2 separate regions of the Homo sapiens genome follow, and region 1 is linked to region 2. Evidence: fine-mapped expression QTL. A gene starts in region 2. The other region holds a variant in brackets. All regions are shown on one strand. Distances are between the middles of the regions. Region 1 overlaps CMTM8 (CKLF like MARVEL transmembrane domain containing 8). Region 2 holds the start of CMTM8 (CKLF like MARVEL transmembrane domain containing 8).

What was found.
Region 1: its variant is fine-mapped to the expression of CMTM8 in whole blood (GTEx, PIP above 0.99).

Annotation. Positions count from the first base shown.
Region 1 is chr3:32,273,853-32,290,650 of GRCh38, reverse strand. All of the region lies in intron 1 of CMTM8 (CKLF like MARVEL transmembrane domain containing 8), which reads right to left. Among named protein-coding and RNA genes, the nearest start is that of CMTM8, 44 kb to the right of the region's middle. RefSeq lists an enhancer at 1,553-1,602. The variant C/T (reference allele first, on the strand shown) is at 6,870.
Region 2 is chr3:32,228,893-32,243,700 of GRCh38, reverse strand. CMTM8 (CKLF like MARVEL transmembrane domain containing 8) reads right to left here and starts at 5,021. Exons shown (of 4, transcript NM_178868.5): 1 at 4,582-5,021. The coding sequence starts at 4,728. RefSeq lists a silencer at 5,008-5,217.

The sequences.
Region 1 (16,798 bases), 46 kb before region 2:
CAGAAAAATTTGTTTTTAATACTTGAAAATACAAACACCGGCCCTAGCCTGAGAAACAGCAGCAGGTTGGATCAGGTCTAAACTCCATGTTCCAGCACCAAAGTCCTCCAAAGCTGGCCTTGGACTACCTGTTTCACATATAACACATTTTAGAAGCAGCTTAATATACATGTACATTATCCATACTCATACAAAATTGTGATTTGAATTATAATTACATTGAATGTGTTTATTTAGGAACTGACATCTTACAATACTGATGCTTCCCATTCATGAAAATGGTACAGCTTCCCATTTATTTAGATCTTTATCTTTCAATGAAGTTTCTAGGTTTGCTCCATAAAGGTAATATATAAAGTTTTAGAAATATTTGCAAACTGTTTATTGTTTGTGTACAGAAGTGGAATTGACTTTTGTATTATGACTTATATTAAGCAATCATGCTGAACACTATTTTGTAAATTCTCTTGGATTTTTGTCGTAGATAATATGATTATGAATAATGACTGTTTGTTTTTCTTTTCTTTTCTTTTTTTTGAGACAGGGTCTCACTCTGTCATCCAGGCTGCAGTACAATGGCACAATCTCAGCTCACTACAGCCTTGACCAGGCTCATGTGATCCTCCCAAGTAGCTGGGGCTACAGGTGTGCACCACTACACCTGGCTAATTTTTGTATATTTTGTAGAGATGGGGTTTCACCATGTTGCCCAGGCTGACCTTGAACTTCTAAGCTCGAGCAATCTACCGGCCTCGGCCTCCTAAAGTGCTGGGATTACAGGTGTGCACCATCATGACTGGCCTCCTTTTTCCCCCATCCTTGTATTTCTTATTCTTGTCTTACTACACTGGTTAGGGCCTCCAGGGCCTACGATGAATATAAATGGTAATAAGATCCTTATGTTCCTGATTTTATAAAAGAAAGCTTCTAATGTTTCATCACTAAGTATGGTATTTGCTGGAGGTTTGGGTGGCTGGTCCCACATTTTCTATGCATCTATTTCAGTTAGACTGGCTTTCTTGTTAATATACTAGCATACTGGCATCACTGCTAATATTATTACCTCAGGTAATATTTCAGGTATTGTGCTCAATACTTACTGTATATTCTCTCCCCTCTCCTAGCCTGGAAGGATCTCTCCCTTCTTTTCTACTATCCATCCTTCAAGGCTCCTTTCTGATCCCACCTCCTCCAGGAAGCCTTCTTTGACACCATGGCTCTCTGAAGCTTCCTGATTTCCTACTCATTTGGGGAAAAGTCATCAGAGTTTGTCTTAGAGGCCATAGAGTATACAGCAGAGTTCATTCTCAAACTTGAGGCCCAAAAGACAGTTTTGTTTAGCACACATAGTGTTGGTTAATTCAGTGTTCTGAGAATTTTTAAAGAGAAGGTTAATCAGGAGATTTTAAATTAAAATTCAGATTTAGGGCATCTCTGAAAAATTAGATCCGTTATCGTTGGGGCTTTCACTTCTTTATGGGCACAATCAGCTGTAGCCAAGTAGCAGTGACCTCTTCAGACAGAAGTTTCAATCTCTGGTTCATCACAAACCCACTGCTCCCTGTTGCCTTATAACGTGCTTTGCTCATATATTCTGCCTTCCTGGCCCCTGTATGCAGCTGATTTTGTGACTTCCGGTAAAAAAGAAACTGCAAGACACAAAGTACCACATGGTGGCTTTGTCACTTACTGGTATAATCTTAGGCAAGTCACTAACTTTTTGAGCCTTTTCATGGTTTCCTCACCATGAAAATGAGCTAATGGCATGTACCTCAACTAATTCATAGTTATAGGAAATTCGACTGAGATAGCTCACTGGAAACCAAAAGGTGCTTTAGAAATGACAGCTGCGGCCAGATATAGTGGCTCACGCCTGTAATCCCAGCACTTTGGGAGGCCAAGGCGGGCATATCACGAGGTCAGGAGATCGAGAACATCCTGGCTAACATGGTGAAATGCCGTCTCTACTAAAAATACAAAAAATTAGCTGGGCGTGGTGGTGGGCGCCTGTAGTCCTAGCTACTCAGGAGGCTGAGGCAGGGGAGTTGTTTGAACCAGGAAGGTGGAGGTTGCAGTGAGCTGAGATTGTGCCACTGCACTGCAGCCTGGGTGATAGAGCAAGACTCCATTTCAAAAAAAAAATGATAGCTGTATAGCCTACTCAACACAGTGAGACCCCCATCTCTACAAAAAAGTTTTTAAAAAATTAGCTGGGTGTGGTGGGTGCCTGTAGTGCCAGCTACTTGGGAGGCTGAGGTGGGAGGATCACTTGAGTTCAGCAGTTCAAGGTTACGGTGGGCGATCATGTCACTGAACTCTACCCTGAGTGACAGAGTAAGTCCCTGTCTCTAAAAAATAAAGAAATGATAGCTGTATTTTCTTCTACTTACTCTCATATATGAAAGTCAGCTCCTCAATTAAGTTGTAAGCTCCTTGAGAGCAAGGACCCATCATCTAAAATCCTGTGTTAGCAGAGTCCTGAACACAGAGAAACAAAGATGTTGTCAAAAGACCATGGATTGCAAGTCAGGCCAACTGTGTTCAGATTCCAGGTCTACCTATTTGATATCTGGAAAGTGACTTAATCTTCCAGAACTTTAGTTTTATGATCCGTAATAAAACATGTCAAATAAATATAATGTATCGTGTGAATTAAGATTTTGTAAATACTTTTTTTTTAAAGCCATAAACGGATCATCTCTCTCTTGCCAAACTTCAAGCACGGAATACTGTCTTGTGAGGGGCAGCTGGCATATGAACATATTTCCAGATTCTTTAGTGGTTTTCCTTATAATCCTACCAGCAGCCTCCAGATAATTTTCCTATCTCCTTCACTCACAACCAAAGCCTGAATCAATATCTCTTCTGCCATCTCCATATGGTTGAGGGAATACATTAAATAATGGCGGACACATAAAATAATGTGCACTTTTATTCAAATAATAATTTTCTAAAATATTTATTTGGATTCTCACAATCTAATCGACCACAGAAGGCATTTGTGTATTCTAATAAAGCCTTATTTCCCTAACTCTCATGTTTTCATTTAACTTTACTCTGAATTGGCACTTCCTTGTAATTCCTATTATACATAAAGACAAAATATACAACTTTTCTAGATTTCACCCAACCTATATTAAAATTTATTTGAACACTACAAAAATAAATCAGTTAGTAATAGTTTAATGGTATTAACAGCTGAAGGATTTCAAGATTTTAAGAGTGAGGGCAGTATCACATTGGTCCTTAACCTGTTTAGGAGCAAAATATCTGAGGGTTTTAGGTAAAACTTGGAAAACAAAATTTATGACTCTGTAACATTTTAATTCTTATGAAGACAAAAAATTGAAGAAAAACTTCAAATTCAGAGGAGTAAATGGCTGTGTGTCTGAAAGAATGTAGATGATCTTACCTTATGTAGATTCAAACATTATTAAGAAGGTGCCCAATAAAAATGATGGGTAAGTGCCAGACACCTTAAATTGTTTCATTTTAGTCCTCAAAGCAACTTTGTAATGGATTGGGTCAGTATAACCACTTTAGACAAAAAAAGGAACAGCTATTAGCTAACCCCAAATTAAGCAAAGCAGCCACAAATAGGCTGCCACTGCACCTCACCATTCCACCTTTAAAGCAGAAGAAACCAAGTTTCAGAGGGCCTTGAGAGATCTGCCCACGCTCAGAGCCGAGAGGCTATCAGGCAGGGCTGGAGCCCACATCTATCTGCCCTTTCCGGCAGACAAGTGCACCTGGACAACACGCTACAGCAAGCTTGTCCAACCTGCGGCCCTCGGGCTGCATACAGCCCAAGATGGCTTCGAATGCAGCCCAACACAAATTTGTAAGCTTTCTTAAAACATGAGTTTTTTTGCGCCCTTTTTTTTCAGCTCATCAGCTACCGTTAGTGTTAGTGTATTTTATATGTGGCCCAAGACAATTCTTCTTCTTTCAGTGTGGCCCAGGGGAGCCAAAAGATTGGACAGCCCTGCTCTACAGCAAGCTGCCTAGAGCTGAGAACATGTGTGTTACGCCTTCCTATGGGAAATGGTGCCAATCCTACAAAGCCTCCCATGCAAAATGCAGGCTGGGTTTATCTGGGCCACAGGAGCAGCCTTCCTCCCAGCCCAGAGAGAAACTCATTGCACAGATCTGGTTTTGTGGGGAACATTAACTTTGCCACCAAATTATATAGTTTCCACAGCTTCTTCGTTTACCCCAGCGGCCAGCAGTGTGGAGAAGGAGCTTGCCAAAAGTGACAGTGCCCATCACAGTGCACAAACTGTGGACCTGAGGCCACATCTAGCCCACCACCTATAAGCTAAGAGAGATTTTTATATATTGAAATGGTTGGAAAGAATTCAAATTTCAGGTTCATAAAAAAATTATTTTTAATTTGCAATTTAAAAGATTTTAAGTTGCATTTTTAAATGCACCACACTCATTCATGTACCGATTGTCTCTGGCTGCGTTTGTGCTACAGTGGCAGAGGTGGGCCGCTACAACAGAGACTGCATGCTCTGCAAAGCCCAAGCCACTACTATCTGACCCTTGACGGAAAAAGTCTGCCGCCTCCGGAAGTTGAGTGTTTGCTTGCAGAAGGCCCTGAGCTTTAGCTACATTATACACATTTAATTCTCCCATCGTCCTGACAGGGAGGTATTGACCTAACTGCAGACCGCCTGAGAGAATTTAAGTCACCTGTGTCCATAACTATTCTTTCATCCAAACATCTGACTTCAAAACACAGGTGCCACACACTGTGCTAGGAGACAGAGAATTTAGCAGTGAACAAAACAGACTCAGCTTCTGCTTTCTCCTGGGGGAGAAAGGCACAGAGCAAATAGGTAGTTAAGAATTACGTTAAATGCCAGGAGAAAAAAGTCACCTCTCAGCTGGGGTAATGGGGGATTCAACACAACTCTGTTGCCAAGGCCCTGCTTTTTAATTATAGACTCATAAACAGTGCAGAGAGGTGTTATACATCCATCACCCAATTTATCTAATTAGTGGCACCTTATGTAACTACAGTACTTTATCACAACCAGGAAACCAAAATGAGCGCAATACACTTCACATAGATTTCACCCATTTTTACGTGTACTACTAGTATTATTATTAATTTAATTTTTTTTTTTTTTGAGATAGAATCTCGCTCTGTCACCCAGGCTGGAGTGTAGTGGCGTCATCTTGGCTCACCACAACCTGCCTTCCAGGTTCAAGCAATTTTCATGTGTCAGCCTTCTGAGTAGCTTAAATTACACGTGTGTGCCAACACGCCCAGTTGATTTTTGTATTTTTAGTAGAGATGGGGTTTCACCATGTTGCCCAGGCTGGTCTCAAACTCCTGGCCTCAAGTGATCCATCCGCCTCGGCCTCCCAAAGTGCTGAGATTACGGGCGTGAGCCACTGCACCCAGCCACTGCACCACTATTATTTTTTGTGGTATATTTTTGTGTATAATTCTATGCAAGGTCCCTGCTTTTTACTACTATATTACATAATCCCAAATTGAACCACCTCTAGCATGTACCCAAAGTGGCCCTGAAAGCAGTAACATTTAGGGACTGTTCTCTACCCTCCCTGAGGAATTTCCATTTGCTCTTGAACCAGGTCATATGAGGAAAAGGTGTGTACCTTGATCACCTTCGCTGGGGCCTCTCAGACTCTGCATTAAACTGCTCATCAAAGTCAGGACTTCAGTTTTCCCCCTTACAAGGAAAGCCACATGAATCCTGCGTCTGCATTTCTCCCAATTTTCTTGAGAACAAGACCGAGGACACCACTCAAAATTCCTAATATAATCGCCCACATGAGAGAACTCTCAAAATAGAACCAGGAAAAAACAAAAACAAAAACCTTTCCCTCAAACAACTGACAGGCTTCTTCCTTTCTTGTAAGAAGAACTGTAAAGCCATTCATTTATACAGTAAAATATTTATTGAGTTCCTCCTGGCTTCCAGGTACTGGAGTACAAAGATGAACAGACACAGTTCATGCCCTCTGTGAGCTGTGATCACAGGTCGGTGCTGGAGACAGGCACCAATCACCTAGAATGTCTACTCAAAGTCCTATGTCCACTTTTAAATGATACTATATAGTTGGCTACTCGGATTTTTCAATAGATAACCCAATGTGATGACTAAAGGGGAAAAATTATGAGATATAATGCAAAGGCTGGTAGAAGGTGAGGACAAGGTGAGGCAGCCCCACTCCGCTTCCCTGGGCACTGGGCTGGCAGAGGGCATCCAGCTGCATGTGATTCCCCTCGCAGATCCCGACTTAACTCTCAAGACTCCCTCACTGCTTCCTCCTGTTCTTTCAGGCCAGGTTTCTTGTTTTCCACTCTTGTTTTGTTAAATCTAAGTGTATATATTTTTTTGTTATTGTTGTTTATTTTTGAGACGGAGTCTCGCTCTGTTGCCCAGGCTGGAGTGCAGTGGCACAATCTCTGCTCACTGAAACCTCTGCCTCCCGGGCTCAAATGATTCTCATGCCTCAGCCTCCCAAGTAGCTGGGACTACAGGCATGTGCCACCACACCCAGCTGATTTTTTGTACTTTTAGTAGAGACAGGGTTTCACCATGTTGGCCAGGCTGGTCTCGAACTCCTGACCTCAGGTGATCCGCCCACCTCGGCTCCCCCAAAGTGCTGGAATTACAGGCGTGAGGCACTGTGCCCAGCCCTAAGTGTATATTTGTGTGTGGGTTTATGTATACTCATAAAGCTATTTCAAATCCTTTTTGGAAAGAAGTGGGCTATAAATATTTACAAATGGAGTTTCAGAAAAGATACCACAGTCATCTGAACACACCTAGAGCACTGTTTTCTGGCCATAAACTACGAGCACATCTGAGTGCCTGCCTGGATTG[C/T]CTCATTTCTTGCTTATTCCTCCTCGGGGCCTTCCTGACATCTTAGTTCTCCAAGTGTGGAGGGTGGGACAGAGGGGAGGGGATGTATGTGTGCATGTAAAAAACAAGTTGTTTTTTGTGTCAAGATAAATCCTGAAAGGCAGACACAGTAAACATCCTGCTATGTAGGAGAGACCCATATGACGGTCAACTGCCCGGCCTGAAATGCCTAGACGTGTCCCGGGATCAATGGCACCTCAGTAAACTGTCGCCATCCTGTTCCGCAGGCTCCAGCTCATGCATGGGGAAGGAAGCTAACTCCCGGGGGACGTGCTGGTCACATTACATGCGCCTGCGATGTGAGCTCCCCGACTGCAGCACAGAAGCCAGATAGCAAGCGCTCAGTCTGAAGAGAAGAAACTCAAATGACTCTTCCCCCAATTGGAGCCAATTCACAAAGTTTTGCTGTATGACACGTTATAACATGATAAAACGGACTATCCCAAGGTGGAAAAGACAGAGAAATGTAAATACAGTAACAACAGTAATAGCAGGGACAAGATGACCACATGCTTCCCAAGGCTAAAGCAGGGATTCTCAACTTTTTTCATTATCATGCTCCCCCTAAGCATTTATAAACATTTCCTCCCCCTGTATGAAAAACTATTTTTCTTTCAACATTTATTTAGTGCGTGTTATGTGCAATTTAAGTACTAGGGATACAGCAATGAAAAATACAGTTTCTACTCTCACATAACTCATGTTCTAGTGGAAGCATCAGACCAAAAAAACAGTACATACATCAGATGGTAACAAATGCTATGGAAAAATACTAGGCAGGCTAAGGAGATAAGGGTTAACTTATTACACAGAATGTTCAGGGAAAGGAGGTGCTGAAATAAGACCTGGAGAAAGTGGGTTCTAGGCAGGGAGAAGAGAAAATACAAACACCTAGAGCTGGAGCATGCTTGCTGTGTCACAAAAGCAGCAAGGGGGCCAGAGCAGCTCACCCAGGAGTGGAGCGCAGGATATAAGGTCAGAGAGGTAAGGGAGGAACCCATGGGGTCTTGCAGACTGAAACTGAACAGACTGGCTCTCTCACTCCAAATGCAATGGGAAGTGGAATATCATGACACATCTTACCAGGATATCTCTGGCTGTTGTGCTGAGAGCAGACCGGTGTAGGGGGTCGGTTATAGGCAGGGAAATCAGCTAAGAGGCAATATAAAAATAATACAAGAGAGGATGTTAGTTTGGCTGAGGGTGATAATACTGCAGGTGGTAAGAATTGATAACATTCTGGGTATATATTTTTTTAATTTTTTTCTAATATCGCCAAATCACCATTCTCATAGCTAAAAATAATTAATGATAATATCCAATATCCAGTCAATATTCAAATAACCCTGATCATCTCATAATTATTTTATGGTTGCTTGGATCAATATCCAAATATGGTACATATATTGCAACTGACTTTTATCTCATAAATCTCTTTTAATCTATAGGCATCTCCTCTATTCCTTTTTCTTTAAAATTTATTTTTTGAAAAAACTGGGTCATTTGTCCCGTACACACAATCTAGATTTTGCTGACTGTGTCCTCATGGGTTCTTTTAATATGTTTCTCTGTTCTCTGTATTAACCCAAAACTGATACTTAGCCTGAGTTGCCTATGAGACATATCAGAAGAGATGGTGAGTGGGCAGATACAAATCTGGGATCCAGGGGAGAAGTCTAGGCTGGGGCTAGAAATGAGGACCTATAGAGAGAGTTGAAAGCCATGATTCTGAGGGAATGAGTGTAGACGGAAAAGAGGAATGTTCTAAGGCCTGAGCCCTGGCACTCTTGTATTTACAGTTGGGGAGATAAGGAGGCACCAGGAAAGAAGATGAGGTACACATCCAGTGAGATAAGAAAAAAAAATTAGGACAGTGACCTTTGAAGCCAAGAAAATAAGATATTTAAAGGATTGAGGGGAGGGGTCAACTGTGTCAATGTGGCCTTCAGGCTCAGTATGATAAGCACTGAAAGTTGACCATTTGGCTTGGCAAAACAGACGTCACTGGTGCCCTTGGTAAGAGCTGTTTGGGTAGACTAGTGACAAGGCTGATTGGAGAGGGTTCAGTCAGGAGCAGGTGGGATGAGAGGAATTAGGAAATAAAGACAACTCATTCAAGAAGTTTTGCTGCAAGGTGGAGCAGAGAAAAAAGGTGACAACTGTTGAAGAATGAGGGACATATCTTCTGGAGGGAAGATATGTTACAGTTTTCAAGATGGCATTCATCACAGCATATTATCTCCAGGAAATTTTAACATCTCAGATAAACTGTCTATTTAGATACTACATGTATATATGTACTTTATTCATTTAAAAAAGGTAAGATTTCCCTCCCTACCCCCAAGAACCAGTTTTTGCTCCCTTGCAAGCAACACCACCCCTTGATGAGAATGCATGTGCTAAATTAATCAAAACGTTCCAAGAGAAGAGACGAATCCAGCTGCCTGACTCTTCCAACTTTTATTAATGTAAAGAGTTCTTTTGATGGGTAAGAGAAATATTTTCAGGTACAGTGTAGCCACTAGAGAGGTGCCAGGGAAAACAGAGCTTACAGCTAAACATGTGCTCCTACACAAAATCCTGCCATGGTGGGCCTACAAGGTATCTCTACATACTAATAGTCATACACAGGAGCATCAAACCTCAGGATTGTCCCCATGCAGAGATGGGGCTTGGGGAGTTCCAGGATAACTCCCTTCAGAAATAGTTGGGTGCACTGAATTAACAGTCTACCATTTAGAGTCAGGAAGATCTGGTGTGAATCCCACTTCTGCCGCCTCCTGGTTGTGACCTTAGGTCACGATAATCTCTCTCACCCTCAGCTGCTTTATTTATAAAATGAGACAAAGGTAGTTCCAAATATAATTGTCACTTTTTTTTTTTTTTTTTTTTTTTTGCCTATTTTCTCTCGTGTTGGAGACCTACCTTTCCTTCAATGTAATTTGAGTAGGGTCGACTCCACCCCAGGTACCAGAAGTAGACAGATGACCCAGGTATGGCCAGACTACTTATGTTACCAGTGACGGGTCTTGACTGTGAGTCATCCAGGTTCTTGGCACTTTGAGCAAAGAATTGGACAAAACACACAAATGAAGCAATGAAACTACAGATTTTTGAAACGAAAGCACACTCCACAGTATGGGAGTGGGCTCAAGCATGCTGGTTATGGAATTTTCTGGGGTTTAAATACCTTCTAGAGGTTTCTCACTGGTTACTTGGTTACAGCCTATGTAAATAAAGAAGTGGCCCATGACCAGTCTGATTGATTGCAGAAGGCAACCAATCAAAGGCTGAAGTGAAGTTACAAAGTTATACCCCTATGCAAATAAAGACTAGGCCCACGACCAGTCTGATTGGTTGCAGAAGGGGACCAATCAGAGTACTTTCCATTTTCCATCTGCCACGAAGAAAAAGTGGGTGGGGGTGCAAAGGAAGTAGCTTATGATCCTTTTGTTACTTGGGCATGGAAAGTTGGGGTTTTCCTTTTAATTCCATTCTAGGAAATCAGCGTGAATCAGCCTTAGGTTCCCTGCTTCCAGACCCTATTCTCCCCCCTCACTTATGCCTGGCCACATTGACTGGACTGAGAATGGCCATGTGACCTGAGCTAGGTCAATCAGGGACTTCCTCCTGATTGGTGGCCACTACGAAGTGCTTGGTTACCACTATGAAGCAATAGATTTATGGTTTCTTAAAAAAATCACTAATTATATTGACAGTGGGGTGTTAAAGTCTCCCATTATTAATAACAGACACTTCTCAAAAGAAGACATTTATGCAGCCAAAAAACACATGAAAAAATGCTCATCATCACTGGCCATCAGAGAAATGCAAATCAAAACCACTATGAGATATCATCTCACACCAGTTAGAATGGCAATCATTAAAAAGTCAGGAAGCAACAGGTGCTGGAGAGGATGTGGAGAAATAGGAACACTTTTACACTGTTGGTGGGACTGTAAACTAGTTCAACCATTGTGGAAGTCAGTGTGGCGATTCCTCAGGGATCTAGAACTAGAAATACCATTTGACCCAGCCATCCCATTACTGGGTATATACCCAAATGACTATAAATCATGCTGCTATAAAGACACATGCACACGTATGTTTATTGCGGCATTATTCACAATAGCAAAGACTTGGAACCAACCCAAATGTCCAACAATGATAGACTGGATTAAGAAAATGTGGCACATATACACCATGGAATACTATGCAGCCAGAAAAAATGATGAGTTCATGTCCTTTGTAGGGACATGGATGAAATTGGAAACCATCATTCTCAGTAAACTATCGCAAGAACAAAAAACCAAACACCGCATATTCTCACTCATAGGTGGGAATTGAACAATGAGATCACAAGGACACAGGAAGGGGAATATCACACTCTGGGGACGGTGGTGGGGTCGGGGGAGGGGGGAGGGATAGCAGTGGGAGATATACCTAATGATAGATGACACGTTGGTGGGTGCAGCGCACCAGCATGGCACATGTATACATATGTAACTAACCTGCACAATGTGCACATGTACCCTAAAACTTAAAGTATAATAAAAAAAAAATTAAAAAAAAAAATCACTAATTATAAGAAAAATACAGAACCGTGGGTGGCATCTTTGTCATCATCATGCAGAGAAACTCTTTCTAAGAATGAAGCTTATTCAGAAGAAAGCACAGCCAAGACACTGAGAAGAGAGACTGAGTCCTGCTATCTATTGAACTCCTGGTTCCAGCCATACCTGAGGCTTGACACATAGCTCAGCTTGTCAGATACACGAGCCAGTAAGTGCTCCTCCTTTTTGTTGTCATGGAAGCCAATTTAGCCACGTTTCCATCATCTACAGCTGTACAGGCTGTGACTAATACACTATTTCACTGTTAGATATTAAAAATGCTTTTAAGTTCTAGGAAGTGTCTTTCACTGAATGAACACTCAGTAAACAGGACTGACCCTTAGTCTGTTATGTACCCAGTGCTGTTCTGGGCATCAAGTATATAAAGGTAAGTAAACTAAAAGGTATTATGTAAAATTGGCAGCTTATATATTAGGATGGTTAACAGAGATAACTCAATTTGGGAAGGGAAGCATGGGGCTGCGTTATCCTGAGAAGGAGTTTGCCAGGCCTGAAAGGGAGGCCAGGTAATTCTAAACAGAGGCGGCAACAAATATAAAAGCATGGAGGTGTGTTGAAAGAGATGATCAGGGCACAGCTGAGAATGCAAACTCAAATGCCTACAGGGACCAAGCAGGTAACATAAATGAGTGAAACACATCAGTTACAAGAAAATAAATGACAATGACTCTTGACCTCAATTACGGGAAGACTGGAGAGAGCTGAGAATAGCAGCAAATAGGTGACTGCAAGGCCCCTCACAGCACAGAATATAGTTTGTCCATACCATCCGCTCTCACATTCTGCCTTTAGTAAGAAGTGGGTTTTAACTATTCACATGGCCACGTAGATGAGGACCACATTTCCCCAGCTTCATCTGCAGTCAGATGTGGCCATGCTGTACATTCTGACCAACAGGATGCCAGAGGAAATGATACATGTAACTTCCAGGTTGGATCTTGAAGAAAGGGATCCTCTACTTCTCCATCCTACTGAAGGCTGGAGCAGACAGGATGGTGGGAAATGAAGCAGTATCTTGGATCAGAAGATGGAACCCACTGCAGAGAACAGGGAAAACCGACAGAAGTGGGCAGCGTCTCTGACACCACGGAGCTATCATGTCTGCCCTGGGCAATTAGTGCTTTGACTGTCATGACAGAAAAACAAGTTTCCACCTTGTTTAAGCCACTTGTTTTGGTCTTTGTCACAACAGTCAAACATGCATCTTGACCAACACTCTTACATGCAGAGGGCAGCCACTTCTTGGCTCCAAAGGATTACTGCCATGAGGAACTATGGGCTCAGTATTGTGCATTTGTCCAATTTTCCAAGAGATCATGGAAATCTAGATTTTCTTATAATATCTGATATTTACTTACTGGCAACTAATTCTGATTTTCAACACTGTATAGGCCAACACAACTGGTCTGGGGCCCAGTATCATTTCTGGTCCACAGGCCTCTCCAAAATAAAGACTTCATTGGAACAAGTAACATAACTTCGGGTAATAGAGTCCTTTGAGTTTGGACAACACAACACAGTTCCCGCAAACTCTCATCACCCTCAAATGCAGTCCCACTCCCTGGAGAATAAGCCAGATGTGGTGGCACACACCTGTAATACCAGCTACTTGGGAGGTTGAGGCAGGAGGATCACCTGAGCCCAGGAGTTTGAGTCTAGCCTGGGTAACATAGTGAGACTCTGTCTCAACAAAAAAAGAAAAAAAAAAGGAAAATAAAAAAAGAAAGAAAGACAAAGGGAGAATCCTTGGAAAATGGACAGACAAAACCTCTAAGTCAGCAGCAGCAACCACCGTGGGGCCTTACTTGCCCACAGCCTCACCATGTAGGGCCTCCCTGGACACCAGTAGCCTTTATCAGGATTAAACTCTGTTCCTTTCTCTTCTCCCTTTCTCTCCTTTTCAAGACTAAATAATTTCTCAGGGCTGGGAGTGTTGGAGCATACCTGTAGCTCCAGCTACGTGGAAGGCTGAGGTGGGAGGATTACTTGAGCCCAGGAGCTCAAGACTGGCCTGGGCAACATGGTGAGACCCCAATCTCTACAAAAAAAATAGTAACTTAGCCGGGGATGGTGGGATGTGCCTGTAGTCCCAGCTTATTGGGAGGTCGAGGCAAGAGGATTCCTTGAGCCAAGTTCAAGGATGCAGGGCACTATGATTGTGCCGCTGCACTCTAGCCTGGGTGACAGAGTGAGACCCCATCTCAAAAAAAAAAAATTTCTCAGGAGACAGGGCTAGATATTAGAATCATGAAGCAAGAAAACAGCAGGTGAAAAAGGCATCCCTCAGTTTGATATGGAAGGTCTGGCAGCCTCACCAAACAAGTTCATCCAGACAAACAGCTTCATGAAGGAGGAGTGGGAGGTGGCATAAAGGAAGACACAGAAGGTGCAACATCCAAAGCTCATTTTGTGGGAACCATTGACGACACGGGTTACAAGAAAACAACCAAAGTGGCATCAGCATTGCCTGGGGCCCCAGCTAATACTCCCCTCCAAAGAACAAAGATCTTGTGTGGCGCAATTTCAGCTGAGCCCAGCTTTCTCCTCTGGATTCAGATAAAGCACCCATGCAAAGGTCCATGGCTAGCCACAGGCAATTACTCTAATTGCCAGCCAAGCAGTGCCAGCATGAAGGTATTTCTCATACAAGTTCAAACCACTTGCTATCCTCTCAAGTCAAAATAAACATCAAGGAAATATCCACGGCATTGCTGTTGCACAATGAGAATAAAAACAATCATGTTACAGGAAAAGAAGTTCCTGTTTATAAGGCCCACTGCCCTCTAGGGAGCTGCTTCTGGTTTGGTGAGAAGTCTTTTCTCTGCACCCCCTCACTGAATTAAGATACACAGTTTGGAGGTAGGAGCTGGAGAGAGTTTCCCTGAACAACAGAAGGAGAAGGATTTGGAGAGGAGGAGGACGAGTAACCCAGGAGGGAAGGGAGACAAAACAGAAGGGGAGAAGAATGGAATAGGAGGTCGGTCTGCATTCTCTAAAAGCCTCTGTACCCGTCATTGGTCAACATCTAAAACCAACCCACCACTGGGACCAGTGAGCTTCTTACGGACACCAGAGATGGATGACAGCAAAGGATAAAGGAGGTGGGTGAGATGGCAGAAAAGGGCAAGAGAATACGGGCTCTTTGGGAATTAACTGAAGTACATACGAGTGGTAACTCACACCTGTGATCCCAGACTTTGGGAGGCTGAGTCAGGCAGATCACTTGAGGCCAGGAGTTTAAGACCAGCCTGGCCAACATAGCGAAACCCCATCTCTCCTAAAAATACAAAAATTAGCCAGGCATGGTGATGCACACCTGTAATCCCAGTTACTCTGGAGGCTGAGGCGTGAGAATTGCTTGAGCCCTGGAGGTGGAGGTTGCAGTGAGCTGTGGTCACACTATCACACTCCAGCCTGGGTGACACAGCAAGACTCTGTCCCCAAAAAAAAAAAAAAAAAAAAAAGGAAGTACATGGGGGGCCTTTGTGCTCCTCACACAGATTCTGAGCGATTTCACCAATACCTTTGAGGGACAGAGCGGCCCCCATGCCATTTGGATACTATCATCTCCCCCAGAACAAGGGTTATGAGTTCTTACAATGCGCCAGTGCTAAACAATTTACATGAATTTGCATTTGATTCTTTCAATAATCTTAAGAAGTGGGTATTATTAGACATATTTTACAGATGCTTTAACATGTTAAATATTTCACTTAAGATCACAGAGCTAATAGCAGCAGGGCCAAGACTCAAAGCCAAGTCTGTTTGTCTCCAAATTCTGTGTCATTCTGCTCAGAAAAAGATCACATTTAGCTTGCAGAAAAGCAGCACTTTGGGAGGCCAAGATGGGTAGACTGCTTGAGCTCAGGAGTTCGAGACCAGCCTGAGTAACATGGCAAAACCCTGTCTCCACAAAAAAAAAAACCAAACACCCAAGTTAGCCAGGTGTGGTGGTGCACACCTGTAGTCCCAGCTACTTGGGAGGCTGAGGTGGGAGGACTGCTTGAGCCTTGGGAGGTTGAGGCTGCAGTGAGCCATGATTGCACCACTGCATTCAAGCCAGGGCGACTGAGTGAGACTCTGTCTTTTAAAAAAGAAAAGTGATTATAGTTTTATTCACTAATCACAATATACACTGACATCCCAAGCCCCTTGATGTATGGTACTAAGAAGGACAAACATCACTTCAGTGGGATTTCTGCCAACAACACATAACCTGAATCTACTCATGAGGAAACACCACACACACATAATTTGCAGAGCATTCCCCAAACAGCTCACTTGGATTCTTCAAAATTGTCAAGGTCATGAAAGACAAAGACTGAGTATTCTAGACTAAAGGACACTAAAGAAGACATGATGACTATATGTAATATGTGATCTTGTGCTCTATCTTGGACAGGGAAAAAGAATATAAGGAACATTATTAGGACAATTTGGTAAAATTTGAGAATGATAGTTACACTGTGGTTATGCAGGAGAATACTTTTGTCCTTTAGAGATGCATGCTGGAATAGCTAGGGTATTTAGGAGTGTGATGTCTGCAACCTACTCTCAATTGGTTCCATAAAATATGAAGCAGACAGACAGGAAGGAGGAAGGATGAAGCAGGATATTTACATTTCAGAAATTACAGTGAAAGTATGAGGAAGGTCACTATACTGTCCTTACAACTTTTCTTAGCGCCTTGAACTTTTTTAAAATAAAAAATTAAAGGAATTCTGACTTCAATTTCTAGCACTGTGACAGACTGGGTATCCTCCCAAATGAAACAAGTATGGGTAAAACATGAAATTTTTTTTTTTTTTTGAGACAGGGTCACCCAGGCTGGAGTGCAGTGGCATGATCACTACTCACTGCAGCCTTAACCTCCTGGGCTCAAGCAATCCTCCCACTTCAGCTTCCCAAGTAGCTGGGACCGCAGGCATGCACCACCATGCCTGGCTAATTTCTGTAATTTTTGTAGAGACCGGGTCTTGCCATGTTGCCCAGGCTGGTCTCAAACTCCTAGGCTCAAGTGATTCGCCTATCTCAGCCTCCCAAAGTGTTGGGATTACAGATGTGAGCCACCGTGCCCAGCTAAAACATTTTTAAACATGTTGCTGAGCTGGCATGAAAAGAAAATATCCCAAGAAGCCAAAAATTAAATAAAACAAGAATCCTGGGAGTCATCAAATGCCAAAACCAGTTTCCACCCTGAGAGTTTGTTAAACCTTGAGGACTCTTAAGCTTCCAGCTTTTTTTAAAACCACTTCA
Region 2 (14,808 bases):
CAAATGCATTCAACCACAGTGAGCTGTACTGCCTTCCTGAATTCACAATGTAAAAGTCAGTCTGAGTGGACTGCAGCTGAGAAGAGAAGACAATTATCCAAAAATGTGTCCGAGGATACACTCCCAACCTATACTTTTAAAAGAATGTGATTTTTTTTTTTTTTTTTTTTGAGACAGGGTCTCACAATGTTACCCAGGTTGGAATGCAGTGGCGCAATCCCAGCTCACTGCAACCTCGACCTCCTGGGGTCAAATGATCCTTCTGCCTCAGCCTCCCGAGTAGCTGAGACTACAGATGCCCAGCACCATGCTGGGCTAATTTTTGTATTTTCAGTAGAGATGGGTTTTCGCCATGTTGGCTGGGCTGGTCTCAAACTCCTGGGCTCAGGCAATCTGCTGGCCTCAGCCTCCCAAAGTGCTGGGACTGCAGGTGTGAACCACCACGCCTGACCAACAATGTATAAATGTTTATTTTTATAAACTTTTAAGAGAGCTATCATTTTATTTTGGTTAGGTGAGGTGGCTCACACCTGTAATCCCAGCACTTTGGGAGGCTGAGACAGGTGGATCACTTGAGGTCAGGAATTCGAGACCAGCCCAGCCAACATGGCGAAACCCTGTCTCTATGAAAAATACAAAAATTAGGTAGGCTTGGTGGTGCACGCCTATAATCCCAGCTACTTGGGAGGCTAAGGCACCAGAATTGCCTGAACCCAGGAGGCAGAGGTTGCAGTGAGCTGGGATTGCACTACTGCAATTCCAGCCTGAGTGACATTATGAGACCCACTGCACTCCAGCCTGGGCAACTGAACCAGACTCTGTCTCAAAAAAAAAAAAAAATTGTATTTTGTTTACTAAAATACCTTTGTAAAAATGGGGAGGAGTCTCCTGAAACTTACGTGAATTTTCCTTATTTGAGAGAACACACCAGGTGCCCAGTACACTGGGAGAAAACACACTCATATGAAGGCACATCATTGTGATATTTTAGATCTCTGGGAAAAAGAAGGTTCAACACATTTCCAGAAGTCAGGGGGTAGAGGGAGATAAATAATTGAAATAAAAATTTTTACAGCCAGGTGCAGTGGCCCATGCCTATAATCCCAGAACTTTGGGAGGCCGAGGTGGGCAGATCACTTGAGTTCAGGAGTTCGAGACCAGCCTGAGCAACATGGCGAAACCCTGTCTCTACAAAAAATACAAAAAAATCATCCACCAGGCATGGTGGCCCATGCCTGTGGTCACAGCTGGCTTGGGAGGCTGAGGTGGGAGGATCACTTGAGCCCAGGAGGGGTAGGTTGCACTGTGATCATACCACTACACTCCAGCCTGATGACAGAGTAAGACACTGTCTCAAACAAAACAAAACAAAATTAAATCAGAATAGCTAAAGGACAATAAAAGAATACATTTTAAATTCTGAAGAAAAACATTTTCAGTCTAACACTCTCTACCTAGTTGAACTAGGAATTGTGTATAGAATCAAGCTATTCTGAAAGGTGCAAATTTCCATTTCCACATGCATGCTTTCTTAGAAAACTACAAGAGGCTGTGTGTCCCCCCAGTGGGAGCAAAGCAAGACAGAGGACACTGGACATGGGAAGCAGAGGATCCAACCCAGGAAAGAAAGGAAGAGAATCTTCAGAGTGATGGTGCAGGAGAGCCCAGTCGGCCAGCTGTGTGCAGGCCACCAGGCCAGAGGCTCCCAGAGAGGCCAGTCATGAAGACGATTCTGACAGAATACCTGATGTCTCTCAGCTTCTTGATAGGAGACTTAAACAACTAGGGTTAAATTAGTGACTAAATATCTGGAGAAATTATGAAATGAGAAAAGAGAATTACTAACACCAGGGCAAACAAGAAATTGGGCAGGAAAGGAAAAGCATTCATAGTCTACGCACTGGGTCAGTTGTAAGTGGTATTTACAGTGTCATAGGTCAACACTGGCTGCTGATCTAACCCAAATCACCTGAAGACTATACAGATGCCCCTTGACTTAACAATGAGGTTACATCCTGATAAACCCATCCTAAGTGGAAAGTATCCGAAGTCAAAAATGCATTTAATACCCCTAGCCTACCAAACATCATAGCTAAGCCTAGCCTATCTTAAACGTGCTCAGAACACTTAGGTTAGCCTACAGCTGGCAGAATCACCCAGCAGCACAGCATGCTGGAGAGGATGGGTGGTTTGCGCTGGTGATGGCATGGGTGGCTGAGAGCTGACCAGCATCATGAAAAAATATCTACCGAATATCATTAGCCTGGGAAAAGACCAAAATTCAAAATTCGAAGTATGATTTCTACTGAATGCATACTGCTTTTACAACATCTGTAAAGCTGAAAATTCCTAAGTTGAACCATCAGAAGTGTTTGGACCTATATTGGGAGACAGGAAGAGGGTATGTATAATTGGAGGCAGGGAAGAGGGCATCCCAGCTAAAGCCTCATCTTTCAGAGTAGAAAGGCAATGGATAATGTCTATGACTGGGTGGGTGAGGGAACACCAATAAACAGCATTATAAACACGTTGTTTAGAGCTCAAAGAGATGAAGACACTGGGAGAAACTTATATTTCTGCCTGTAGGACCGAATCTTTAAAATATGTGCATAAGGTGGGGCACAGTGGTTCATGCCTACAATCCCAGCACCTTAGGAGGCCAAGGCAGGAGGATTGCTTGAGCCTAGGAGTTTCAGAGCAGCCTGGGCAACACAGAGAGACCCCGTCCCTAGAAAAAAATTAAAAATTATCCAAGTGTGTTGGTGCATGCCTGTGGTCTCAGCTACTTGGGAGGCTGAGATGGGAAGATCGCTTGAGCCCAAGAGGTCAAGGCGGCAGTGAACCATGATGGTGCCACCGCACCTCAGCCTGGGAGACAGAGCAAAACCCTGTCTCAAAACAAAACAAAACAAACAAAAAAGGTGCATAATTAGCTCTGTCAAAAATAAAAACTATAGTAGTAATAAGGGTGATTTTGCTTACATGTTTTCCCATCTTTTTCAAAACGCTTAATGAAATCTAAAAGGATACATGCTAACATGTCAACAGTGATTATTTCTAGTAATGGGATTGTGGGCCACTTACATTTCTTTCACTTTTGTATTTCCTGAAAAAGCGCAGTACACAGAGCATATCGATAATAAATCAGAAAAAAACCCAAAGGCGTTATACTTCATGCCTGGCCCAAATCCACCCCAAGGTAGAAGGCCCATCTCTGTCATTTTAGCTTTTGTTTGCGCTGCTGAAGCAGAGGAGCCTGCCAACTCCTTCATTTGCACAGCAAATATTTGTTGAACTCCTAAAAGCTAGGCCCTGCAAGGCGATTCCAATACCTTCAGCTTTTGAGTCTCCTGAAGTCCTCAATACTCGCTGAGGGAACCAGCTGGGAGAGGAGCTAAGCCAACACTTCTCATACCTTATGTGCATTATGACCACCAGGGGCTTCATAGAGCAGGTCCGGGTGGTATCTGAGACTGGGGGAGCAAGCAAGCTACTTGAGGTACACAAGATTTACTTCAGGTTTCTCAAAGGAACCGCCCAGGTCTTCAGTCACTTCTGCACCATGATGGTGTGCCCATTCTCTAACTCCCACATAGGCTCATTTTCAATTCCCAAATATTTAACAAAAGTCTGTGAGAGATGACAGAGGGGCACTGCTGGGGCAGCTGGAAGCTGTCTCAACTGCTTGCAGTTATGAGCACGGCCCTGCAGAAAGGCAGGCCTGGGTTTGAATCCATGCTTCACCATCCACCGGTGTGATTTACGTCCCCTCTCTAGGCCTTCACAGGGGAGGGTGGTCGTTGGATTACACGAGGGTATGAGGACATCTAAAGGGCTTGACAAGATCCTGGTACACGAAGAAGACTCAAACAGTGACCACCTCTAACTGCTGACAGGACTCCAGTCCTTTCTCAGCTATGAAGGACTGGCTGGGACTTCTGGGAAGATCACGTGAGTTTTCAGCCTCTATGCCCTCCAATGAAGAGAAGAACGCCCATGCCCTGCCTCCTTCCCAGGAATGTTCTGAGCCTAAACCAGGATGTGCACAGCACCATGCAAAAGACCTCTTTGGTCCTAAAATAGGTTATGGCACTCAGATTTTATTCAGTAAAATTTTCCTGACTCACCTCAATGTTACTACCAGGGAGATAATTAGGAAAAGAAAGAAGCCCTTTCCTCTTCCCCTGATCTTAGGAAGCTTTATTTTCAGGGAGGAGGCCATCCACGTGGAGATCAGGTGAGAAAGGCACCAGGTGTCTCTGACACTCAACACAAACTCAATAGCCACTAAGCCAAGCTTCCTGCTCCCAGGATCTGCCGCCGCCACCGAGAGGACCCAACAAGCTGAATTTCTCCCACAGCAAGACATCCTGAGGATCACAACCCTTTCTTCCCAGGACAGCCCGAGTTTCCTGGACCTTGTTTAGAGTCTTTCACTTTGGGAAGAAGGCGAGGCTGAGCAAAAACGGTTCCCTAAAGCCCGCGGGAAGATCTGAGCAGGCTCCATCCCGAGAAGCACGGCGGAAGCACGCGCCGGGGTCCAGCTGAGCCCCCCGCCACCCCCGGCCCGTCGGCACTCACGATCTCGGCCACGATGAGGAAGCCGGGCAGGGTGCGGAGGAACTCCCGGTCGTAGGCGAAGCTGCTGCTGCTGGTGGAGAAGTTCTCTGCGAAGGAGCTGGCGGTGGTGGTGACTGTGTGCGAGCGGGCGCGCTGCGGCTCCTCCATCGTCGAGCCACTGCCGGGCTGGCGCGTCCCCAGGGACCCCGGCGGGTCTGGGGCTGGACGCGCGGCCCTGCGCCCTGGGGACACAGGCGCGGGGGAGGGGAGCGCGGCCCGCGCGGGGCAGGAGGTGCGAGGGGGGCGCCCGCCGGGGGCTGTCCAGGCGCGGCGGGTGTCCCTCTAGTGCGCGGTGCCCCTAGCGCCTCGGTGCGCGGGCTCCCGAGCTGCGCTGGGGCCCTAGAGGAAGAGGAGAGCGAGCGAGGGGAGGCTGCCGGGCAGCCGGGGAAGGCGGTGGAGGCCCGGAGGAGGGGAGGGGGCGGGGAGAGGGGCGGGCGGGAGGCGGGCAGGAGAGGGACCGCCCCGCGGAGGCGCCGCGGACGCCCGCCCTCTTCACCTGTTGCCCGACTCCCAGCGGCGGAGAAGGCGCCGCGTCGCACCCAGGGTGGCTGGGTTGGCAGCCTGGCGGGCGGCGCGGAGGAGAGGGCGCAGGGGTCCTTCTGGCCGTCTTCCGCTCCCCCTCCCGGCCTTTACTTCTGTCAGGCCCCGCCTGGCCCAGGCCCGCAGCCTGTTTCCTTCCACCTGGGCGGGTCGGGGGCTGCGGGCATTGGGGCCCCTTAAGGAAACCCAGGCCTCCAGGGACTCCGCCGCTCCAGGACTCGGCGCGGAGGGAATGACTGAGCGACGACCGAGGCAGGGGGTGATGTGGTACCTCGAATGCTGTGGAAATGGCAGGAATGATGACCCGGCCGGACCTTAGACCCGAGATCGATGAGAGGCCGCCAGCACTGCCCGGGAGACGGCCCGCTCTTCTCCCCCTCCTGCTGCGGCCGCCGCCAGAGCCCGGTGTTATTTCCTGCCCCTCCTGTCGGGAACAATTTGAGGAACCAACTTAATCGCTTGGCTTTGAGGGCGCGACGCTTCCAGGCGCTCTCCGCGGCTCTGTCCCGCGGACCGGTGGAGCCTGGGTGACGGCGCCTGGGCCGGAGGAGGGGAGATGTTTGGGGTCCCTGGCCAGGATGAATCAGCGTAACCGTCCCGTCACCCTCGGGGAAAAAAAATGTTTCAAGAAGGCTTGAAGGGTGTGATTTGTGTAATGTTAACTTTAGGACAAATGAGCTGTGCTTTCCTGGCATGGGAAGGGGATGGGGGTCCTCATTTAGTGAGGCAGTTTGTAACAGGGTCAGGGAAGAACTGAGCTCGGCTGCGTGCGTTTATCGGCTGTATGACCCAGAGCGAGTGGCTCTAGTTTTTGGACCTCAGTAATGCCATCTCTAAAATGCAGGCTTTGACAGATGGACCTCTGAACAAAAAGATTATCTTCCGCTTGGTCCCTCCTTCTATTTTGTGAAAGGGTAGCAAGAAACATTTTATCTGGAAGCCACCAAAAGAAAAGGAAATAATCTTTGGCTATAAATCGAGGGTATCTTTGATTCACAGTGAAGGCATTTCTGCTGATCTGTTCCAAGACAGGTTAAAAACGAGATCAGAAGGGACATTTTCTTCACAGTGTCTTATCAAGTGTGCTGAGAAGAAAGCAAAAACGACAATCTAATAAAATAAAACAAGGAATTAGTGTCTTTTAAGTCTAGGGCCTAGCCAGGAAGACCTCCAGGAGTAAAAGTTAAGGCTTCAAAAGCATGGCAAAGATGTAGATTTGGAGAGATTCCATCCATGTGCATTTGGTAAGCACCTTGGGCTGGTGGGTAAATTCTTAAAATTTAAAATATAGCACTTCTCCCTGGAGCAGTAGTTCTCAAAGTGGTCCTTGGACCAACAGCAGGTAAGTTCCCTGGGAACTTATCAAAAATGCAAGGTCTCAAGCCCCACCCCCAGACCCTCTGAATCAGAAACTCTGAGGGTGGAGCCAGGAAGCTGTGTTTGAACAAGCCCTCCAAAAGACACTGATGCATGCTGAAGTTAGCTGCTGCTTTAGAGAAACTGTTAATGAGTTTGGGGAAATAAGAGATACATACATGAAATGGCTGGAGGAGACTCAAGCATTATGCATGACATTTAGTGAACGTAAAAGACGGAGTCTAGACAACTTTATTTCCATAATATTAACAAAGGACAATCCTCTCTTAAAATTCCTGGGGTCAGATGAATTTCTAAATTCAGATTTTGTTTTTCAATTTAGAAAGGTAAAATGTGCATGTACCATATATTACATAATACCTTTGGTAAGGTCTGGGGTGACACTCTAATATACTAATTTTCTGCAAGGGAAATCATGAATGACATAAGTGTATGCTTGGATTATCTACTGCAATGTAATAAATGTTCACAAAATATTAGTGGCTTAAAATCACCATTTTATTTGCTCAGAAATCTGTTGTGTCAGGAATTTGGGAAGGGCTTGGCTGGCAGGTTCTTCTGCTTTGCATGGTGTGATTGGAGTCATTTACTCAGCTGCTTTCAGTTGGTGACTTGGCAGGGCCAGAAAGTCCAAAAAGTCTTCATTCCCATTTGAGCATTTCAGTGCCCTTTCAACTTGGGCTTTCTAACAGTATGATAAGCTCATGGTGGTTGGACTTCTACCTGGCAGCTGGCTACTGGAAGAGACTTTCTAAGAGGGGCAAATGCAGAAGCAGATCTCTTAAGGCCCAGCCCTGAAGGTTACACGGACTCATTTCCACCACATTCTATTGGTCTAAGCCAATGAATGACAAGGCCAGCCAGAGTCACGCAGAGGGGAAACAGATACCACCTGTGGATGGGAGGAGCAGTAAAGAATTGTGGCTGTCTTTTAATCTAGGTGAGATAAAGACAAAGACAATAAATAGCTTCACATCTGTTTAGGTTATGTTTTTCTACCAAATATGTTTTCTGCAAGCTCAGGAAAAAAAATTTTGGTTTCAGCTTTTGGGATTTCAGAATCACAGAGAAAAAATTATACACTGGTTGCTTGAAAACTAGCTGCCCCTTTCCAACTGCTGCCTACATTTGGGTGATTATCTTCCACCTGAAACTCTACTGATTGGTGCCCATTCTTCCAATAACACCCTTATCCAGTCCACCTTCCGTCTTCCTGCAAGAATTATTGTCCTGAAACCCCAGACTAAGGTACCACTGTGCACAGCATAAGGGCCTATATAAGATATTCAGCCTATCTCTTCTGATCCCTTTTCTCAACCACTTTAGAATGCATACTGTTTCAGCCCCAGATACACTTTGTATATATCACTGTAAGTGTGACCACTTTATGCCCATAGCCAGCTTTTCTCTTAGCCTACAAAGCCTCCCACCTTCACACACAGCTCACAATCTGCAGTCTTCATGGCCCATTTTAAATGCCACCTTTTCTGTGGTTTCTTTGGATTTCCATGAGCTGTTGTTATTTTCTTTTTTGTTTTAGAATTCATTGACTTTATGCACTTCTTTTACAACTTCTCAAGATATATGAATTACCCTTCCTTGTCTGCCCCCTGCTATAGGAGGTATTGAACAAATGCTGAGGCCCAAACTTTTTTTTTTTTTTTTGGAGACAGGGTCTTGTTCTGTCACCCAGGCTGGAGTGCAGTGGCATAGTCACAGCTCACTGCAGCCTTGACCTCCTAGGCTTAAGCAATCCTCCCCACTCAGCCACCTGAGTAGCTGGGACTACAGGCAGGCACAACTACATCCAGCTAATTTGTTTTTTATCCTTTGTAGAGGTGAGGTCCCACTTAGTTGCCCAGGCTGGTCTCAAATTCCTAAACTCAAGTGATCTTCCCACCTCAGCCTCCCAAAGTGCTGGGATTACAGGCATGAGCCACCATGCTGGCTCCAAGCTTCATTCTTAAGTGCAGAAAAATGTCAAAAGAAAAGCTAAGCCCTGGGCTCCCATAATGACTTAACACAGAAGACAGCTTCAAGCTGAGACTTGTGGGAAGTATTTGATTTGTAAAAATGGAGAAGAAAATGGAAACAGGTACAGCCCAAGTGATACCACATGTGCCAGGATGAGCAGGTCCTGTGCAAATTAGTACAGAAAAATCTAAGATCTGTTAGCATGGAGTGTAGGGTTAAGGGTTTATGCAGAGTCTAAAATATGGATGCCACAAGGCCATATTACTCAACCAACCAAAGTCATAAGACACAGCACTCTCAAAGGTCTGTAGGGCCCAGGCCATTCAATGGAAGCCCAGGACTCATTAATAATTGAAAGAAATAAATGGACAGCTTATGACTTCCACCTGCTCTCTGAGAAAGAGAGGATCAAGGGACATTCCCATTTTTTAGGTAATTTTCATAGGTTTATGTTTCTCTTCACTGTTATTCTAATTTTAAATTATGGTGGTTTCATTCAAGAATCATCAATGAATGTTAAAATTAGTGGGTGAAAGTGTGATGAGAAAAAGGATATTTACATCATCTCTTAAAAAATAGAAGTAACAAAATAACAAAAAGATATATCATTTCAAAGTCTTCAGAGGATACTATTCTCCCTTTGAAATTCATAACTGTACAGTGGAGAAACCTTTGGGATATCACCAGACATTATGTACCTCCTAATATGATGTAGTGAGATGGATACAACATCACTTCTGTGATATTCTTACCAAATGCATAACCTGAATTTAATCATGAGGAGGGAGCAGACAGACTGAAATTGAGGGACAGTTTATTAAGTGTCAAGTTCATGAAAGACAAACACTAAGGAACTGTTCCATACTAAAAGAGACTAAGGAGACCTGACAATGAAATGCAATGTGACATCCTGGATTAGAGCCTGGGCTGGAAAAAGAACAATAGTGGGACAATTGGTGAAATTAGAATACATTGTGTAGATCAGATAAACATTGTATCAGTGTTACATTGATACAATGACATTGTATTAGTGTTAATTTCGTGATTTTGATACTTATACTTAAATAAGTGTTAACATTTTGAGTATCAGTAAAAGCTTATATAAAATCTTTTTACTATTTTCCCAACTTTTTTTTTTTTTTGGAGATGGAGTCTCGTTCTGTTGCCCAGGCTGCAACCTCCACCTCCTGGGTTCAAGTAACTCTCCTGCCTCAGCCTCCCGAGTAGCTGGGACTACAGGCGCCCACCACCACGCCCGGCTAATTTTTTGTATTTTCAGTAGAGATGGGGTTTCACCGTGTTGCCCAGGCTGGTCTTGAACTCCTGAGCTCAGGCAATCCGCCCTCCTTGGCCTCCCGAAGTGCTAGGATTACAGGTGTGAGTCACCATGGCCGGCCTATTTTTGCAACTTTTTAAAGACTGAAATTGTTTCAAAAAGAAAAGTTAAGAAAATAAAAATAATTACTCATGATTGATTAAAAATAGAGCTGTCTAATCCAAACAGTAGTTCACACTCTCCAGGCACATTGGATTCTGTGGTTTATCCATCTTAGAACGTCCTGCCTCCCTTCATCTTGCTATTAATACCTGTCTTATAGCGAAAGAAAACAGGAGCTTGGCTGAGAAGTAAGAGTGTTCTTCCCACTCCAGTCCCCAAAGCCACCGGTCAGCCTAGTCCATCTTCAATTTGAAAATAGGAAGAGATGGAACCTAAATCCATTCAGTAATGAACTTTTGGATCTCGGGTGGGTTTGAGTTCCAAGAGGCTCTGTCAATTTGACCAGAGGTTTTAAGCCCAAATGACAACAGGGTTAGGCATATAAGGTAAGAAAATAAGTGATTTGGGCCAGACTGTTTTCAGAATGGCCTCTTGAATTGTATTCTTCTGAACCAGACACATTTGGGCTTACATATTAACTTTGTATCAAATTCTTCACTTACGCAAAGAGTACATTCACTTTATTTTTCTCAAAACATATGACCTCCTGGGTCTCACTCTCATTTTTTTCTTTAGTTTGAGACATAGGGACAAGAAATATTTCACTTTCCTCTTCCTATGAGGAAAATAACACTTGGAGAAACTGTGAATGTCATGAAATCAGCCCCAACGTTTGAACTCAGCTGGGGCAGAATAGGGAGTTGGGGCGGGCGCAGGGGTGTTTGTGGCGAACAGGAGCACGAATGCTCGAAAGGGGCCATCTCAGTTTCTGCCCCACCTGATTATTGCCTTGTAAGAATTTGGGCCTAGTGTTGACAGAAATCCCAATTTTTATTAATTAATATTGGCAGCTAGTATCCTTTATTTTAAAACACAGTGTGTCGCCTTTGTGGGCCAAACAAACATATCTGAGAACCATCAGTTGATGCCTTCTGATTCAGGCAAAGCAAGAAGACTTTCTCTTCTCTCTCCAGCTGCCTCAGACTCCCACCTCCCTGCAAGGCCCTCCAGAGGCCTCAGAGGACACAAAATTTGGGTCAAGAGGGTGACGCTTAAGAGCAGAGTAGCTGGAGGAAATATTTAGAAGAGTGGTGAATAAAACGTGAAACAAATGGGATGCTGCTAATGGCAGAAGAGGGCTTTCTGAACCAGGGAAGTTTCAGATTGGGAGACTATGGAGGGATGTTAAGAATTAACTTATTTAGAAGTAGGCATTCTTAGAAGATGTAATAATAACTAATTTATTGTTGGCCTATTTTGTGCCAAGCACTATCTTAACTCTTTGAATAATTTTATTAGGTAACTGATTTTAAAAAAAATTTTTCTGTGTTGGGGCAGTGGCTCATGCCTGTAATGCCAGCACTTTGGGAAGGCGAGGTGGGCGGATTGCTTGAACCCAGGAGTTCAAGACCAGTCTAGGCAACATGGTGAAACCCTGTCTCTACAGAAAATACAAAAATTAGCTGGATGTGGTGGTGCATACCTGTAGTCCCAGCTACTCACTTGGGAGGCTGAGGTGGGAGGATCTAGCCCGGGAGGTTGAGGCTGCAGTGAGCCATGATTGTGGCATTGCACTCCAGCCTGGGAAACAGAGCAAGACCCTGTCTCTTTAAAAAAAAATTCTTAGGAGTCTTGACCTTAATGAGAAAGATGGATTTCTCAAAGTTCTTAGCTGCATCCATTGGCTCAACATTTATTTATCTAATATGCCACTCACTATTAAAATACACAACTCAATAAGACACTATCCCTTCCCTTAATGAATAGGTCATCAAGTGAATGAGAGAGACCAGTACATCAGTGATGGGTGGGACCCCTGCCAGGCCACAGGTGGGCCCAGGGCCACCCCCATGTAAGGGGAGGACAGTGAGGTCAGCCTGGGGCTCAGGCAGTTTCCTCAAGGAGCAGCCATTTAAACTATTTTCAAGGGCTATTCAAAGTTAGCTAAGGAAAGAACAAGGGGACAGGGGAGGAAATTCTAGAAAGAGGGACACAACCTGTCCCAACAAGATGCATTATGACCAGTGTGTTTGCTGAGAAATGCAGCTAGAGGGAGTTTCAACCCTCTACCCCCGCAGCATAGGAGACAATGGGTCATCCCTGTTCCCTCTCCATTCCTTCAATAAATGTTCAGTAAATTGTACTTGGCAAAGGGCAAGATGTGGAGAAATTCCATGAATGAGCATTTATGAAGCTTGAGGTCAAACCATACTCCCATCCTGTTCCAGATAGGGAAAGGGCACAGGGTATGTGTGTGTATATATATGTGTGTGTGTGTGTGTGTGTGTGTGTGTGTGTATAATCTTAGAAGGGTGAAATACTTGAGTCTTTTCCTGGTCTTCAGACTTTTTACTTTTTTTTAGCAATTACTGTGACAAATCAGTAGAAAATTTAAATTTTTATATATATTTAAATGTATACACACATACATTTTTCCACAAAAATCAATAAGAGGACTAGAGGATGGGGTGGGGGTGGGTGGATACACACAGTTAACTTTGTCCTTTGTAGGGTGGCTTAGTTAACCCCAATCAGGTTGCAGAGCAGAAAATAACTGAGGTTTATTGAAGAAAGGGCATGTTTACCTGAAACAGGTCTTGAAGGGGCCCATTCAAAGAAGGAAACAGCATAAATGACAAAGCAGATGGAAACCCATGAATGACTGTGTTTGAGGATGAAGCCCAAGTGAGATGGACATTGGTTTTAGAGAAAAGATCATCTGAGTTTGGAGGAGCTGCTCTAGGAGTTCTGTGGAATGATGGGAAATCACAAGGCAGTGGCTGCTAAAAATACCTTGTGCATGTTAATAGCACCTTGTCGAAAATCCACGGGCCAAAACCTACAGGCTTTATTTGTATTTTACTCACAAAAATTCTAGGCCCCCTTAAAAGTTCTTGGAAAAGGTGAATATGAAGGTCCTAAAGCTAACGCCTTTTTCTGCCCAAGGAGGAGCAGGAACCTGTCCATCCAAAGCTGACAACTTCTAAAGAAGTGCCACGATAGTTGCAAATTGAAATCAGAAGCACATCAAAAAACTGGACAGCAGACGAGGCATGGCATCTAATGCCTATACTCTCAGCACTTTGGGAGGCTGAGGTGGGCTGATCGCTTGAGCCCAGGAGTTTGAGACCAGCTTGGACAACATGGTGAAACCCCCCATCTTTACAAAAACAAAAAACCCCCAAAAAATTAGCCGGACATGGTGGCACATACCTGTAGTTCCAGCTACTCAGGAGGCTGAGGCAGGAGAATCGCTTGAGCCTGGGAGGTTGAGGTTGCAGTGAGCCACAGTTTCACTACTGCACTCCCTGGTGACAGAGGGAGACCCTGTCTCAAAAAAAAAAAAACAAAAAAACAAAACAGAGTAATTACACCCAAAACATGCCTCACCAGAAGACTCTCCGAAAGGAACACATTAGGCAAGCAGTTTATGGAGTGGTTATTTGCTTACCAGGTTCTTTTGCTGTAGAAAGAATTAATTGGAGGGCTCTTCTGAGCCAAAGGAGCCAACAAACATTTAAGTGTTTGTTTATGGACAGTAAACTATTTGAGGAGACAAGATGGAGCTGAGAAATTTAAAGGTGGCTAGGGTCTTTATCTAAAGAGTCACCACCAAGTAACATCAATAAAACATCAACTTTGTACAAAAGATATATTTAAGTATGCATTCTTGAAGAGTTACTGGCAAATAAAAGGTAAAATGTATTACAAGGTTTTTCTGGAAATTCTATTGCCTATCTTTTATAATGCCAAGAATCACTCCTTTGTTTTTTAATTTCCATGTTCAAATCCACTTTGCTGGAAGGTAAGTAACTGGTCCTTTGGGCCCAGCCTGTGGTTGCTTTGGGAGTTGGGGGAGAGGCTTTGGGCCGGGGTAGCAAGGCCTCCATTGCACAAGCTGAAGTAATGTTAGCATTAGGTGTATGACTGCATGACAAACTGTTCCTCCCCTCTCTTGACGTGGTGAATCTGTAACCAGAAAAGCCAGTTAGATCTCCTGACACATTCGGAGGGTGGAGGCTGGTGGGGAAGGAGCAGGGGATGCCTTCATGGGAGCTGCGCTATCACAGTGGTGAGTCCTGATGCCTTGCCTGTGAGGGCCTTCACAACCTTCAGAGCATGATGGCATTGCCAGAGAGAAGAGAATTCACCATGGACACCTAGCCTAGTGCCTGGCAGATGGTAAGCATTCAACAAGATCTGGAGAGAGAATGGGGTTAAAAAACGTGGTACTTTTCATAAAGTCAGAATATTATGAGGCCTCCAAATATGGCATTGTGGACAGGTGAGATCCAACTGGGCACTGAGCCTCACATATTGTTATTATTTTTCTTCTCTCAATCTCTAGGAATGGTGCACATTCGCTTTATCACACAAGGAGGAGTTTTATGTAGGGTTTTTTTGTTTGTTTTGTGTTTTTTGAGACAGAGTTTCACTCTTGTTGCCCAGGCTGGAGGGCAATGGCGGGATCTCAGCTCACTGCAACCTCTGCTTCTGGATTCAAGTGATTCTCCTGCCTCAGCCTCCCAAGTAGCTGGGATTACAGGTATGCGCCACCAAGCCTGGCTAATTTTTGTATTTTTAGTGGAGACAGGGTTTCACCACATTGGTCAGGCTGCTTTCAAACTCCTGACCTCAGGTGATCCACCCTCCTCAGCCTCCGAAAGTGCTGGGATTACAGGTGTGAGCCACCACGCCTGGCTGTGTTTTGTTTTTGTTTGAGACAGAGTCTCACTTTGTTGCTCAGGCTAGAGTGCAGTGGTGCAATCATAGCTCACTGTAGCCTCGACCTGCTGGGCTTAAGCAATCCTTCCACATCAGCCTCCCAAGCAGCTAGGACCACAGGCATGCACCACCAT